Linked DNA regions of Homo sapiens: region 1 is linked to region 2. A link means that fine-mapping ties the variant in region 2 to the expression of a gene that starts in the linked region. Tissue or cell type: nucleus accumbens. Region 2 holds a variant in brackets; the other region holds the start of a gene. All regions are shown on one strand. Distances are from middle to middle.

The links. PIP is the estimated chance that this variant, and not a neighbour inherited with it, causes the effect.
Region 1: SLC25A34 starts here. The variant in region 2 is fine-mapped to the expression of SLC25A34 in nucleus accumbens (GTEx, PIP above 0.99).

What each region holds. Positions count from the first base shown.
Region 1 is chr1:15,732,899-15,740,999 of GRCh38, reverse strand. SLC25A34 (solute carrier family 25 member 34) reads right to left here and starts at 4,742. Exons shown (of 5, transcript NM_207348.3): 1 at 4,137-4,742; 2 at 3,006-3,071; 3 at 2,755-2,907; 4 at 2,272-2,406; 5 at 1-1,776. The coding sequence starts at 4,514. The coding sequence ends at 1,594. It overlaps PLEKHM2 (pleckstrin homology and RUN domain containing M2), which reads right to left. Exons shown (of 20, transcript NM_015164.4): 20 at 6,231-7,203. The coding sequence ends at 7,066. SLC25A34-AS1 (SLC25A34 and TMEM82 antisense RNA 1) reads left to right here. Exons shown (of 2, transcript NR_149050.1): 2 at 778-949. RefSeq lists enhancers at 4,876-5,642, 5,643-6,408.
Region 2 is chr1:15,333,322-15,341,422 of GRCh38, reverse strand. It overlaps FHAD1 (forkhead associated phosphopeptide binding domain 1), which reads right to left. Exons shown (of 34, transcript NM_001391957.1): 15 at 1,872-1,942. All of the region lies in intron 1 of FHAD1-AS1 (FHAD1 antisense RNA 1), which reads left to right. It overlaps LOC124903851 (a long non-coding RNA gene), which reads left to right and starts at 497. Exons shown (of 3, transcript XR_007065480.1): 1 at 497-1,043; 2 at 2,460-2,627; 3 at 2,970-6,899. The variant G/A (reference allele first, on the strand shown) is at 3,892.

The DNA.
Region 1 (8,101 bases), 400 kb before region 2:
TAGATGATGTTGGCTGAGGCCAGGCGCGGTGGCTCACGCCTGTAATCCCAGCATTTTGGGAGGCCGAGGCGGGCGGCAAGGTCAGGCATTCAAGACCAGCCTGGCCAACACAGCGAAAGCCTGTCTCTACTAAAAATACAAAATTAGCTGGGCATGGTGGCGCACACCTATAGTCCCAGCAACTCGGGAGGCTGAGGCAGGAGAATCACTTGAACCTGGGAGGTGGAGGTTGTGGTGAGCCGAGATTGCACCACCGCACTCCAGCCTGGGCAACAAAGCGAGACTCCATCTCAAAAAAAAAGATGATGTTGGCTGAACTGCGGCCCCTGCAGAAGTGCATGTTGAAGTCCTACCCCCTAGTAGCTCAGGATGTGACTGTATATGGAGATAGGCTCTTGACAGAGATAATTAAGTTAAAATTGGGCCAAGTGAGGTGGCTCATGCCTGTAATCCCAGCACTTTGGGAGGCCAAGGCCAGTGGATCACTTGAGGTCAGGAGTTCGAGACCAGTCTGGCCAACATGGCAAAACCCCATCTCTACTAAAGATACAAAAATTGGCCGGGTGTGGTGGCACACACCTGTAATCCCAGCTACTCAGGAGGCTGGGGCAGGAGAATTGCTTGAACCTAGGAGGCCAAGGTTGCAGTGAACCGAGATCGTGCCACTGCACTCCAGCTTGGGTGGCAGAGTGAGACTTCATCTCAAAAAAAAAAAAAAAAATTAAAGTGGGGTCATGAGGGTGGGCCCTAAGCCAACATGATTTGTGTCCTTATAAGAGGAGGAGATCAGGACCCAGACGCACATCGAGGGACCACCATGTGCAGACACAGAGAGAAAGCAGCATCTGCAAGCCATGGACAGAGGCCTCAGAAGAAACCAGCCCACTGACACCTTGGTCTCCAGCATCCAGCCTCCAGAACTGTGAGAAAATACATTTCTATTGTCTAAGTCGCCCAGTCTGTGGTTCTTTGCTACAGCTTCTCCAGCAAATAAGGCAGGTGACGACGCCACAGCCTCCTGGTGCACCTCAGCCTTTGCCATGGTACAGTGACCCCTATGGGCAGTCCGGGCCCATGGGCCTGTCACAGTCACGCACTTGTCAAGCGCATAGGTCTAGGGTGAGCAGGGCTAAGCTCCAGTCCTGGCTCTGCCACTTCAAAATTGTGTGGCTGTGGTCAAAGCCCACCACTCTAGGCCTTGGCTTTCTAATGGTAAAAGAAGTAAAAGTGCCTGCCTCGTGCTGCTGTCTGAGGCCTAAGTGAGCCGATGTATGTAAGTTACTGGGCCTATGCCATGTGCACGCCCGCAGCAGTTGCTATAACTGAGCAAGGCTCTGGGATGTGGTGACCCAGTACGCAGTACAGAGAAGGAAGAGAACTGTCTGGAAGACAGAATGGGTGGTAACTTGAAGTGGATGCTCTGGACCTGGGTGGGCCAAGGGGCTGGATGGACCAGAGCTGTCCACACTCTCCCGGGACCTCTGGCAGGGCCTGGGCCCATGGCCCGCCCCGGGACAGCCAGTTGTCCTGGAGCAGGCTCTCACTTCCGGCCAAGTGCCGGCCGTGTCAGGACGTGGGGGTGAGGGCCGTCGTCTAGGTGCCCTTGTGCTGGGCCCGCCCAGCCAGTTTCCGAAGCTCGTCCCAGAAGAGCATGCTGAGGATGGTGTGGGGGCCCAGGCGCAGGTAGGCGGGGCCCAGGCCCTTGTAGAGTGCCAGGGGGCCCTCCTGCCGCCAGATCTTCACCATGCAGTCGGTGAGGCCCCCATAGAGCTGGCCCTGGGGAAAGACATGGGGTGAGTGTTACTACAGGGGCCTTGAGGCCCTGGCTGGCACCACATCTTGGCACACGGGTCAATTTCACCCCCACACACCCTATGGACAGCACCTTTGTATTGGACACACCTGTGAGGCTGCGGCGCCATGGGAAGGCTGTGGGGTCAGGCCTGAATTCCAGTTCTGGCTCCTCCCCTTACCAGCTGGGGGAACTCATGCAAGTCAGTTGATCTGTCTGAGCCTCAGCTTCCTCATCAGGAAGATGAATGTGATTATAAGGATGGAATAAAATCCAGATGTGAAAGTGCTTAGCCTGTGCCTGGGACCCGGGGGCTCAGCAAACAAGCCCAGTTAATGTGTTTGCATACCTGGCCTGTGTCTGCGTGTCTCTGGCTGTGCATGTGTGAGTGTGAGTGTGTGAGAGTGTGTGTGTGTGTGTGTGTGTTGGGGGGGTGCTCCCAGCTCCCCACGGTCTCCCCTAGACCCGCCCCTGCTCACCCTGCCAGCTGTGTCCACCGGCTGATTGTATAGCCGCGTGCTGACCACATCGAAGGGAGTCATGACGACAACCACGGCTATGCTGCTGATCATGCCCCCAGCCAGGGCCACCAGCCAGCTGTCCTCAGGGAGCCACTGTGGGGATGGCACAGGTGCTGATCCCTGCAACAGCTCTCTACCCACCCACGTCGTGCCCTCCCGGCCTCCTACCACACAGGGGCTAAAAGGGCTACAGAAAGGGGAGCAGATGAGGCCCCTCCAGCCATCCCCCAGCCCTGCCACCCTGAGCTCCTTCTCAGCTTTGGGGTTCACTGCTGACCCCACACTCCTGCTGGTACCAAGGGCCGGAGTCACGACTCTGAGGGCAGAGGCAGGGCCCCATCTGTTGCCACCCCCTGGTCTTCCCCGTGTGGAAGGAGGCAGGTGGCCCCCCTCAGTCCGGTGTGTCTCTGTGGATAGGCACAGGTGTCCCCAGCTCCTCACCTGTTGCTTCTGTACCCAGGCCTTGGCAGAGGCGAAGGTGGCCAGCTGGGCAGCTGAGCCCACCATGACTCGGGGCACAGCCCCACCAACGCCCTGCCACAGCCCCAAGAGCCCTTGCTGCCGCCAGATGGTCTCCAAGGCACCCAGGACAGTCTGTGGGGAGAGGGCACGGGGTCACTGGCCACCCCTGCCTAGGCTGGGAGCATGCCCAATCCATGCCCCCAGGGAGCTCTGAGAGTGGCAGGCCTCACCTGGTGATTGTGCTGGTGTCCCACGGCCACTGCGGCCACTGTCTGAGCTTGCAGCTGCGTTTTGATCTATGGGAGCAGAGAGGACACGGGTGTGGGGATGGAGCCTGGGAGAGCCAGGGTGAGCTGTGTGTGTTGAGGGCGCCCTGCCCCCGTGCCCCTGAAACTCACAGCTCCATGGTCCCGAGCCTGAAGCTTAGGGGTCAAGTGAAATAGGGTTGAGGTGCAGCTCTGGGGTTGGCCTGGGTTTTGCGTCTCAGTGTGACTTGGAGCAAGTTACTTAACCTTTTCTGGGCCTCAATTCTGTCACGGTTGGAAAGCTGTTCTGAGGATTAAGTGAGACAATGATCCTCCAGCACCAGCCAAGGGCAAGGCGAGCCTTTGCTCAAGGGGAGCTTTTTTTTTCTTTCTTTCCTTTTTTTTTTTTTGAGGCAGAGTCTTGCTGTGTTGCCCAGGCTGAAGTACAGTGCCATGATCTTGGCTCACTGCAAGCTCTGCCAACTGGGCTCAAGTGATTCTCCTGCCTCAGCCTCCCCGGTAGCTGGGATTACAGGCATGCATCACCACGCCCAGCTAATTTTTGTACTTTTTAGCAGAGACAGGGTTTCACCATGTTGACCATGCTGGTCTCAAACTCCTGACCTCAGGTGATCTGCCCGCCTCGGCCTCCCAAAGTGCTGGGATTACAGGCGTGAGCCACTGCACCCAGCCAAGGGTAGCTTTCTTCAAAACATTTTTTAATTTTTTATTTGTTTTGGGTGGCCCTGAGGCCCCCCTGCAGAGTGCACACGAGGCGGAGGCCCTCAAGGGTAGCTTTTATTCTTATCGTACATGAGGCCATGCGGGAAGAGAAGTAACCAAGCCAGGATTTGAGCCAGCACATCTGACACCCTCTGCCCCCTCCCCTGGCTCAGGACCAGTGGGGCAGGGACCGCAGGGGAGCATGGATCAGAGCAAGGCCCTGGGCCAAGGGGCAGATTCCAGGCTTGGGCTAGGATGTTCCAGGGAGCAGCCCCACCCCGGCTGCCCCACCCCACCCAGGTCCACTGAGCCCTGCCTTTGGAGGCTGCAGGGCCCCTGTGGGAGCTGGGTCATGGGATGGTGGAGGGTGGACGATGGAGACAAGCCACTCACCAGGTAAGCAGGGCTCCCCACGAAGGCTCCCAGTGCCCCCGCCACGGCTCCCGCAACCACGGTGCCACCTGGTTGCTGCGTGAGGCCAGCCTGGCACGCCAGGCTGTAGCAGTAGAAACGAACGCCATTCATGAGGCCTTGGTACAGAAGGCCGGCAGCCAGCCCCTTCTGCAGGCCCCACAGCCCGTCTGCTCGGGCCACAGCAGCGACAGAGGCTATGAAGCCATGGTAGGGCCGTGGGTAGGTGCCCCGGGCCTGCAGCTCCCCCTGCAGCTGCAGCCGCGTCTTCACCACCTCCAGGGGGTTGGTGAAGACACAGGCCAGGCAGCAGGCAGAAGCACCCAGCACCAGGTCCACTGCTGGGGGCACCGTCTCCATGGCCTCCGGGCCAGTGGCCTTCTGTGCCCGGGTCAGGGGCACGGCACAGGCCCTGTGGTGGTGGCGTTTAGGCTGTCTGTAACCTCGCAGGGCTACGGGGCTGGGGTTTGCAGGGGACCGAGGCCATGTCTAGAGGGTAAGGGTCCTGGTCTGACAGGCCTGTGGCTGCCTGGTGTCCCTGGTCTATCTCAGCAGTCCACCTGCTCTGCTCAGCTGTTCCAGCGGTCTGCCGGAGCCTGGGACGCGCCTCCGCCAGCTGCGACCAATCCCAGCTGCCTCTGTGCCCACACCTGCCAGCCGAGGGCGGGCCTGGACCCTGGGATCTGGGGGAAAGGTCACTTGGGACTGGAGGGAGAGCGTGGATAGGGAGAAGGTGCCAACCAGCCCAGGCACCTCCTCCTGGCCTCCCTCTGGCCCTGGGCAAAGGGCTGGCACCCCTGCCTTGCCTCTGGCTTAGCCTGTCCAGCTTTGGCAGAGCCCTAGGCAGGGGGCAAGTGACTGGGAGGTCCCTGGCATGGGGTACACGGCCAACTCCGCCCCTGCCCCACCCTGCCCCTGATATGCCCCTGGTGACTGACTTCCCCTTTCCAGGACTCAAGTCTTCAGTCTGGCTCCCACCGTCTATAGGCCCATGCTCAGCAGGGTCAGAAGTAGAGAAGGGCTCTGGAGCCCTGGGGAGCTGATTGGAATCCCAGGTGTGGCTCTCATGTGTGACCCCTGGGCAAGTCACTTCCTCTCAGAGCTTCAGTTTCTCTCATTTGTAAAATGGAGATACTGACATCCACTCCAGAAGGTTCTGTGGAGGACTGGCGATGAGAAGAGTGTGCCTAGGTCAGTGCTGCACCCGATAAAGGCACCCGCATCGCCTGCTCGCCCCCACCCCCACTGCCTCTGGCTCCTATGCCCCCCTCGCTGCTCCCAGGACTTCAGGGCACCTGGGTGAGTAGGACTTGAGGAGTGACCTTGGCTGGTAAGGACTTGCTGCCAGGCCTGCCCTGGGATGCCCTTTGTGCCCGCTGAGAAGAGAACGCCACCTGGGCCAGCTGTCAGGTGTGTCTGCTCAGGCTGGGGCCGGTACCAACATGCCCACCTTGGCCTCTGCCCCCAGACAGCTCTCTCCTGCCAGGCCACCCTCAGTCACCCAAGGCCCAGTCCAAACTAGAGGCAGAACCACCCAAGTTGGAGTCCCACACCCACCTCCCAGGGCCCACCCCTTCCCTCCCAGGCCCTTGAGGCAGCAATGCTGAGTGGCTTGAGGGCCTCAGGCTCCCGGCCTGGCAGGGTTGTCACCCTCTGGCCAGCCCTGGAGGGGACGGCGCAGCAAGAGGCAGCGAGGACAGCTTGGATTCTCCTGGGTTTGGGCACTCACCCCCGGGGCTGTGGAGGCAGGAGCGTCCTGCCCCGGGGTGGGCTGCAGATGGTGGGCGGCGGTGCAGACGTGCCCTGGGGCTTGAGCTGGTGGCTGCTCCTCCCCTGGCTGCTGCAGCAAACAGGAACAGGACGGAGGGCAAAGGTCGGGCCGAGAAACTCCCAGGGCCTGAGGGTCTGCAGACGGTGAGTCCGCCCGGCAGCGGTGGCTGATCTGGTTCTGCATGTCCCGTGTGTCCCTTGTGTCAGGCACAGGGCAGATGATGGAGGAAGGTTTGCAGAAAAGGGCCCAAGGGATTTGGAGAGCTCCCTTCCCCTACCCTGCTCAAAAAGGGCCAGTGACAAGCCTTGGCAATATAACATGTCTATTTTATTTTAAAAAACAAAACCCAAACCACCTGACCCCTTCCCCAGGAGGCTCTTGACGAAACTCTAGGGAAGGGCCTGGCTCCAGCCAAGCAGGGGACAGTCAGAAGATGTCAACATGGATGCCAGGCTGGTGGGCTCCGCCCTTCTCCAAGCCCCCCATCCACCCCCTTTGCTCCTCGGTGCTACAGGCACTGCCGGGTTGAGGGGACAGGCAGGGCAGGACTGTGGGCATGCAGAGCCTCCTGGCAGCCAGGGAGGGCTGCCCGCCCCCCTGCATCTGGCGAGGCAGGCAGCTGTGTGCGCAGTGATGGAGCTAGGAGGAGGAAACATGCGCAGACACCCCGTGTTCCCGCTTCCCCACGTGGCCAGGAGAGTGTTCAAACACGAACAAGGATGGCTGGGCACTCAGGGCCCCAGCCCCCAACCCAGGAGAGGAAGAGGGGGGTCCCGCCCTCCTGGTTCTTTTGTTCGTCCTTAGATGGATGGTGTTCTCGGTGCCACTCGGCAGAAATTCTGCAGACTGAGGCGGAGGCCCGGGAGGAGGGCGTGCATCCGCAGAGCCCACAGGGCTCGGACCCTCTGCCCCCAGCGACCTCCATTCGCTACCTGTCGGGCAGGATGCCCAGGGGTGCCGGGCACCTGATCTGGATCCCTGGAGTGGAGGGACCCTGTCTTAAGCCACACTCGGTGGTTCTGCCGCCCAGGGCAGGGGTGGACTGTAGGCTCCCGACAGCATGACAACAGCCGTGACAGTGTGCCTGCCGGCTGGCGTGCCTTCCTTTCCTGCCCACCAGGGACGCCAACCAGCTCTGCCTCAGCACCAGGGGTCTCGGGAGGCTCGGCCGCGGCAGAGACTGTCGCTCCGCTGCCAGGCGCTGTGGATGAGGCTCAAGGCATCCTCGAATTTCTTCTTGTTGGAGGCTTCCTGGATCGCCGTGTGGGGGAGGTCCACCTGTGTTGGGGCGTGCAGAGAACAGATGAGGGCCACTGAGGGCCACAGGAGTCTTCAGGGCTTGTGGGCACCAGGCCTGCCTCTGCCTTGGCCACGGAGCCCCTGTCAGGCCCTCCCCATCTCTCCCTGGGAACATCTTCCACGCTGCTAGTTTCTCCCGCTCTTCCAGGGGCTTGAGCTGAGGATGGGGTGGTGCCCCCCGAGCTCCCTCTTTCCTGGGAAGGCCCCAGCTCTCAGGATGGCCCAGCGAGGCAGGCGCTGCACTCTGTTTGGCTCTGCAGGGAGGTGTCTGTCCTGAGCTGTTCTCTGCCTCTAACTAGTCCAGGCTTCCACGGGGCTAGAGCGTAGCATGTGCTCAAAACCCGCTTGTGCAGGGCTCTCATGAGCACGCTCCCACACTGGCACTCAGCCTGGAGGGCAAGGAAGAGGGTACTGCCAATATTGTGTCCCCCCATCTGAGCACAGCTGGAGGTCCACCACAATTCGTGCTGTTTGATTGGAACTGAGGTCAGGAATTAAGCTTCTTGGGTTCTGTTTTCAGCTTTGGCCTCAGACTCACTGGGAGTCAGGGTTTTGTCCTTTTGATTCTAAGTTTTTGTGCCTGTCAGGTGTGTCTGCTCAGTCTGGGGCTGGCACCAACATGCCCACCTTGGCCTCTGCCCCCAGACAGCTCTCTCCTGCCAGGCCACCCTCAATCACCCAAGGCCCAGTCCAAACCAGAGGCAGAACCACCGGGGCTGGAGTCCCACACCCACCTCCCAGGGCCCACCCCTTCCCTCCCAGGCCCTTGAGGCAGCAATGCTGAGTGGCTTGAGGGCCTCGGGCTCCCAGCCTGGCAGGCTTGTGCGCAGCAAGAGACGGCAAGGACAGTGAGGACTCTTCTGGGTTTGTTTTAAGA
Region 2 (8,101 bases):
AGGTGTTCAGTAAGTGGTAGGTGGGTGTGAGGAAAAAAAGCAGTCATGTAGGAGCCAGGACGCTTGAACATTTGTCTTGATTCTTCACCCATTAGCTGTGTGACACTGAAATTGTCCTTATCTGAAAAATAAGGAGAAGGGACTAGACCAGGGGTTGACAAACTACAGCCCACAGGCCAAATCGGGCCCACTGCATACTTTTGTAAATAAGGTGGTGTTTTTGTTTTGTTTTGTTTTTTTTGAGATGGTGTCTTGCTCTGTCGCCCAGGCTGCAGTGCAGGGGCACAATCTTGGTTCCCCGCAACCTCTGCCTCCCGGGTTCAAGTGATTCTCCTGCCTCAGCCTCCTGAGTGGCTGAGATTACAGGTGCCCACCACCACACCTGGCTAATTTTGGTATTTTTAGTAGAGATGGGGTTTTACCATGTTGGCCAGGCTGGTCTCGAACTCCTGACCTCAGGTGATCCACCCGCCTCAGCCTCCCAAAGCGCTGGGATTACAGGCATGAGCCACCGTGCCCGCCGTAAATAAAGTTTTATTGGAACAGTGCCATGCTTATCATGTCCATTGCTTACATATTGTCTATGGCTACTTTCATTTTACCATAGCAGAGTGGAAGAGGTATGAATATGGTCTGCAAAGCATAAAATATTTACCATCTGGCCCTTTACAGAGAAAGTTGCCAATCCCTGGACTCAAGCCTCTGTGGCTGATTGGCATGGTGGTCCCTTCTTTACCCCACTCTATCCATGTCTAGGGCTATGTAACTTGCAGTGCCCGCCCATATTTTGCCTCCAGACACTGAACTCAGCCATGTGACTTGTTCTGGCCAATGGGATCTTAGCAGACATAACACAAGCAGAAGGTTGAAAAACACTATGTGATTGGGCCACTTTCTTTTATACCTCGTAGTCTCCATGAGAACAGCCTAGGCTTGCTTGCTGGGGGATGAGAGACACAGGGAGCTGAGTCACTCCAGCTGAGGCCAGTCTAGATCAACCAAAGGCCAGCTAACACCCAGACAAGTGGGTGGGCCCATCCAAGGTCAGCAGAGCCGCCTTGCCACTGACCCCAGACACGTGAGGAGTAAATAGCAATTGCTGAATGCCGCTGAAGTTTTGTGGTTGTTTATTATATAATACTATTATGGCAATAGCTATCAGAATGATATAACCCGTAAAGCTCATTTGCCTCTAGAATATTTCTTTTCTTTTAGTAATTCTGCTGCCTGTGCTATAGATAGCTGTACTTTGTCCACTGGATTTAGTAAACACAGTTTTCAAAATCTGATGGCATTAAGGCTGGTGCAGTGGCTCACGCCTGTAATCCCAGCACTTTGGGAAGCTGAGGTGGGTGGATCACTTGAGGTCAGGAGTTCAAGACCAGCCTGGCCAACATAATGAAACCCTGTCTCTACTAAAAATACAAAAATTAGCAACACATGGTGGCAGGCGCCTGTAATCCCAGCTACTCAGAAAGCTGAAGCAGGAGAATCACTTGAACCCGGGAGGCAGAGGTTGCAATGAGCCGAGATTGCACCACTGTACTCCAGTCTGGGCAACAGAGCGAGACTCAAAAAAAAAAAATCTGATGGCATTAAGTCTTCTGGGCCTTTGACAGAGGAAAACAAACAGTGTGGTTGGCCCAGGAGGCCAGAGGGCAGCACCCTGTCATTGTCCTTACCCTCCTGGGAGATCTTAGCCAACCTTTTCTGTACCTCTTTGTGTGCAAATGAAGAAATCATTTCACCTATTGGAGGGTGTGGACTGGACTAGCTGATAAAGAAAAAACAGGTTTCAAATGCACAGTGCTATATAAATGCCAACCAGGGGCCGAAATGAACTTTGGAAAAAAAGAAATTAAAAGAATTACCTGAAGTTCCTGGGCCTGGCTCATAAGTTTTTTATAATGTTCCAGAAGATATATCAGATACAAAGAGAACCCTTAAAAAAAGAGAAGCAGGAAGAATGTAAGTATCAATTCAACTCCAAAGCTTGCAGACAGGTGGATGAAAGCAACGTTGCCATCCCATCAAAACAACGTGAGCTGCCATCCAACCTGTGGTTTTAAAGTAGTTGATAAGCAGCCGGGCACGGTGGCTTAGGCTGGGCATGGAGGTTCACACCTGTAACCCCAGCACTTTGGGAGGCTGAGATGGGCAGATCACCTGAGGTCAGGAGCTCGAGACTAGCCTGGCTGGCCAGCGTGATAAAACCCCATCTCCACTAAAAATACAAAAACTAGCTGGGTGTGGTGGCGCATGTTTGTAATTCCAGCTACTTGGGAGGCTGAGGCATGAGAATCGCTTGAAACTGGAAGGCAGAGGTTGCAGTGAGCCCAGATTGTGCCACTGCATTCCCGCTCAGGTGACAGAGCGAGACTCAGTCTCAAAAAAATAAAAATAAAAATAAAGTAGTTGATAAGCCTTGGTTGAGCTCACATCCAACTTTCTTTTTGGAGGTGGAAAACAACCCATCAACAGAACACCTATTTACTGTCTACTGTGTGTGAAGCATGGTGCTGAGTGTGGGGGATGGTCTAAAGCCAAGACCTCCAGGGGCTTACAGTTCAGTCCGAAAGACAAGGTGTAAATGCCTGCTGGAAACATGCAGTGACCCCAGGTGGCATGTGAGTGACTGCTGAAGGAGAGGGGAGGGTGAGGGTGTCAGAGGAGGGGGAGATCATTCACCTGGAGTGAGCGAGTAAGACCACTTGGTTGAAGAACTACTGGGTGTGGATGCTGTTGGGTGGGCAGAATTCAGAGAGCCGGGGGAGGGCGCTTCAGAACAGGGGTGCGCGGGGCTGAATGATGACCCCCTACGATTCCAGGTCCGAATCCCTGGAACCTGTGGGTGTGACCGTACAGGGCAAAAAGAGCTTGGCAAATACGATTAAGTTAAGGATTTCGAGATGGGGTGTTATCCTGGATTATCTGGGTGGACCCAATGTCATCACATGGCTTCTTATAAGGAGACAGACGGAGGCTTGACCACAGACAGAGGGGAAGGTGATGTGATGGAAGCAGAGACTGGAAGATGCCACATCGCTGGCTTTGAAGATGGAGGAAGGGGCCATGAGCCAAGGAATGCAAGGAATGAAGCTCTAGAGGCTGAAGAAGGCCAGGAAACGGATACTGCTCTAGAGCCTCCGGAAGGAACTTTAGCCCAGTGAAACTGAATTAATCCTGAATGCTAAGAGAATAATGTGTTGTTTTAAGCCAGTCTCTTGTGGTCATTTGTTACAATAGTCACAGGAAGCCACAGTTTCACACCGGGATGTGGGGGTGGTGGGGGTGGGATTTGGAAAAGGCAGTGCTCCTCCCGGGAAGTGCTGAGCTTACTTGGGCTGGAGTAGATGATGGGAGAGGGAGGAGCAGACAGTGGAGGAGGCATGGAAGGGTGAGGTCAAGCCGTGACACTCCTGAAACCGTCGGCTTGAGAGAGGAAACTTGATTTAAACATGACTGAAATGTGCCCAGTGGGTCCCCAATTTATAGATGAGGCAGTGGCGTTCTGAGACGCAGGCCTGCCCAACGCCACACAGCAGGCCAGTGGTTGAGCCAAGACTAATTGGTGTGACTCGAGGTCTGAGTCACTCCTATTCCAGCGGCTGACAGAACAGTGAAGTGGCCTGATGAAGAGCGTTGTTTTTTTTTTTAAAGAAAAATAGCTGGGCTGCATTCGAGAGGCTGGAGCTGGCAGGGTTTCTTTGCTGGAGCACTGCTGCTATGTCGGGCCGTATTGCTGGTATTGCACTGCTGATATTGTCAAGTCTTTGCTGTTGGGGCTGTCTTAGGCATTGTGGGATGGTTAGTAGCATTCCTGGTCTCTACCCACTGGATGCCAGGGGCACCCCTACTCACCCCACCCCAGTTTTGACAACCAAAAATGTC[G/A]CCAGACGATCCTGGATGTTGCCTGTGATAAGCTCCCCTCCTCTGAGTGAGAGGCAGGGAGCTCCGCTAAGGGCCCGAGAGACGCCCAGGTATTCAGTGCTGATCCTCTAACTGAGGGTGGGAGAAGTGAGGATGAGAGGGAAGAAAGGGAAAGCCTTTTAAAGGGGTAGAATGGTGGCCTCGTCATCAGACGGGAGAGAGACAGGTTGGGGTTGCGGTGGGGTGTGGCAGGGAGAGAGAAGGAGCCCCCAGGCTGTTTCAGACATGCTGAATTTGAGGCACTGGCAGGACTCTGGGGAGGGAGGGTCAGCAGAGAGCCGGACATGCCAATCGGTAATGCCGGCCCAGCCCAGCCCATCCAGGGTCCTTGTGTGAATGAAGAAAGAGGCCCCCTTCCTCCTGGTGGCCATGGCCCCTGGCCAGGGACCCCACCTACTGCCTTGGCTGGACTCCCTGCACCACTTTCCTGGCAGCCCCTCCTGCAGAGGCGTCCGTGTGGAAAACACATAGGAGTGGCTGGGGAAGCCCGGAAGTGCAGAGTTTCTTCATGAGAAAGGAGATGGGGTGGACCAAGGGCTGACTGCACAGGAGAAAACACCCTCGTTAGGGATAGGAGTTGGTGAAGGGGGCTGCTGGGAATGAATGGAAAAGATCAGGAGGGAAGCAGAGCGCCTAAAGGGTTTCAAAAAAGAGAATGAAGAGCGTTGGGCAGGTCAGAGACACAGTCCCCGAGAGGGTGGTGGCCTAGTCAGTGCTGCAGGGGGCCCGTGTCAGTTACTTGGCAGAAAGGCCAAGAAGCTGGCAATGAAGACCGAGGGTGCAACACGCTTCTTAAAGATCACAGGTGAAGACAGGAGTAAGAGCAATTGAAAAGGAGCGAAAGAAGCGATGGATTCCAGAGAAGAATGATTTTTTTCAGGATGGTACAGCCATCTTGAAGTGCCCCTTTGATGGCAAAGGGAAGGAACTAAGAGGAAAAGAAAGGCCGCTGACGCCAAAGAAAGAAGAATTTGTGCACAAGGTCCCTGGGAAGGAGAGGAAAGGGGAGACAGGGCAGGGTACGTGCTGCATGTAGGAGGAAGACCTAGTGGGGATAATGGAGGGAAGGAATAAAAGGTGGGCCAAGAGAGAAAAAGGAAGTGAGGAGAACATGTTCTTGTGTGGGGCAATGCACCATTCGGAGGATTTCCAGCACAGAAGCGTGAGAACAGCAATATTATAATAATAGCAGACCTGGTGCGTGCCAGTGCTATGCCAAGAGTTTGATACGTTTTTCTAATCATTATAAACAACCTGGTAAGGAAGTATGTTCATATTTATAGGTGAAACGACAGAAGCTCCCCAAGGTTAAGCTACAGAGCTGGTAAGTGTTAGAATCAGAATTCAGACCTAGATCTGTCAATCTCTTTTCAAAGGGTTTGGAGGCTTGAGAGTACAGGGTTGGGTTGGTGCGTTGGAGAGGTGCATTGCAAGGATACCAAGATGGCGGAGGAGGTGAGATGGCCGGGCTGACATTGGCTTGGCCCACTGGACCTGGTGAATACAGGGATTTGTGGAGGCTCTGTTGGGATGAGTCTGGGATTTTGCTCGGCTGCAACGTGTGACCCAGGAATCAAAGGGGAAGGATGAAATCATGGTTGGGATCTGAGGAGGACTAAGGGGAGAGGTAGCTGAGGATGCTGAAGGGGAGGCCAGTATTTGATCACATTTCTATTTCTAGATTAGATGACTAACTGTAATCATAATGGGGATTTTGCTCTTTGGGGGAAGGAACAAGTCTTTCTTATACTTCTGTTTACAAAAGTTATAAATGTTGGTTATAAAAACCCAAATGTTACAGAAATTCATAATGTGGGAAGTGTTTGCCACTGCGTCTTCATGTTCTGCACAGTGGCTGGCACACAGGGGCCCTCAATGAACAGTTGTTGAACAACTGAATGGAAGTCAAGGTCCAGTGCAATCCCACCCTGCTGGGATAATACTCCTAACAGTTTGATGTCTTTTTCTCAAGGTTGTTCTTTTGCTCAGATACTGACATTTAAAAAAAAAAAAAGCACACCAAGCATATTGTATTGCAACTTGCTTTCTTTTCAGTTAAAGACACAGTGTATCTTGGATAGTTGAGTGATTTGCCATGCATGCAAGAAGAGTCTTTTATTTGTAACAAAGTCTTGCAGAAATAGACACAAACGACGGAGCTTGCAGAGAAAAATGTAAAAAATCCTTTCCTTCCCTTATCAGAGGAACCCTGAGAAACCAGGCAGGAGGAGTATTCAGCTGACTTTCAAGGTGCCGCCTAAACATTCTTATCCTCCCAGCTGAACCACACAGCAAATCCTCCACCCTTCCGAACACACTGGACCCCAGCAGGCCTCACCTTGTGGGCTGCACGTGACATCTCCCAACAACACCACAAGTCATTTCCCTGACGTTTACCCCGCCTGGATTCCCCTGGGGGATTCGTTTCAGGATTTCCATCCTAGTTTGTGACGCGTGTTTTATCTCTTAGGAGGATGTTCTAAAAGGCAGGTAGCCTGGTGGTCAAGAGCAGGGAGTTTGAGGTTGGAGGGGCGTGGACTGAGTTGCAGCTTGGCCACTTGGCAGCCGGGACCCGAGGCCCACTGTCAGATTCTAAGGAGGAGGCCTCTAGAAAGGGCTCTTGGCTTCAACCCAACTGAGGGCTTAGGGCTAAAGAAACCCCATTTGCTGCTAAATGGAGACAGGGCAGAGGCTCCAGAGGATGTTACCTGGGTGCAAGTAAACCAGGCTATGCGGTCCACATGCCTACCTGCCTGGTGGCTACCCATGTTTAGGTCAGATGAAGTCAACCAGTATTTGAGGCTGACGATGACAGCAGCCCCCACCGATTACGAGCTAACTGTGACCAGCACTGCCATGCATGTATCCCATCACTCAGTCCTCATATGCCGCTAGGAGACTGGATGGCCATTTCACGAGCAAGTAAATGGAGGCGCAGCCACGTCACGTAACTGCCCACACAGCTAGTAGGTGCACAGCTGAAATTCAAGCCTTGGCAGTGGTACCCAGAGTCCCAGCTTGGAACATCACTGTGATACAAATGGGGCTTTCTGTGGTTATGGCTCAGGGTAGGAATCAGATGCGGTTTAGCTTAGGGAAAGACAACTCTTAGCTCTGTCACTGCCTGAGCCGATGACAGCACCCATTCTCTAGGGACTGGGCATGTGCCTGGTACATTGCTGCATTGTCAGAGGAAGTGTGTATGTGTGCAGGGGGTGGGGGTGAAGGGGCAGGGGGTCATAGGGAAGACACAGGTGTTAGGGTCACAAAGACCTCAGTTTGAGTCTTAACCCTAATGTACCAGCTGTGTGACTCTGGGCAACTTTTTAACGTTACTGTGTCTCAGTTTCTTTACTTTTCAAATGAAGGCTGGGCGCAGTGGCTCACGCTGGTAATACCAGCACTTTGGGAGTTGAGTGGGTTGATTGAGCCCAGGAATTTGAGACCAGTTTGGGCAACATGACGAAACCGCGTCTCTACAAAAAACACAAAAATTAGGTGGCGTGGTGGCACACGCCTGTAGTCCCAGCTACTTGGGAGGCTGAGGTGGAAGGATCGCTTGAGCCTGGGAGATGGAGATTGCAATGAGCTGAAATCATGCCACTGCACTCCAGTCTGGGCAACAACGCAAGACTTTTACTCAAAAAAAAAAAAAAAAAAAAAAAAAAGATAAATAAAATAAAGATGGTAATCATACCTGCCTCACTGGGTAGGTGGGAGGATAAAAGTACACAATGCGTGTGAAACACCGAACACAGTGCTAAATCCCCAGGAGGAGCTAAACAACCCATGCTTTCTACCCTTCTCTTAGGAGCTAGAAACGCAGGCAGCTCCTGGGAGTGTGCAGGATGGCGATGAATAGACTGGGGACTCCCTGTCAGCCTCTGTAACATGAAGTGCCTCAAATCACCTTATCCTGGTGGAGTAATGAGAAAACCAGCTTTGAGCCAGTTTCCTCATTTCTAAAATGAGGAAAATGGGCAAATTATTAACTCATAGAATTACTGTGAGGATGAAATGAGATCATGTGTATAAAATGCTGAGAACCGTATCTAGAATATAAGTCCTCAGTGATGAATGACTATCATCGTCACCATAATCACCATCATCACCATCATCATCGCCCTCCTCCTTCCTCCTCTTCCCTCCTCCTCCCCATCCTTCCTCCTCA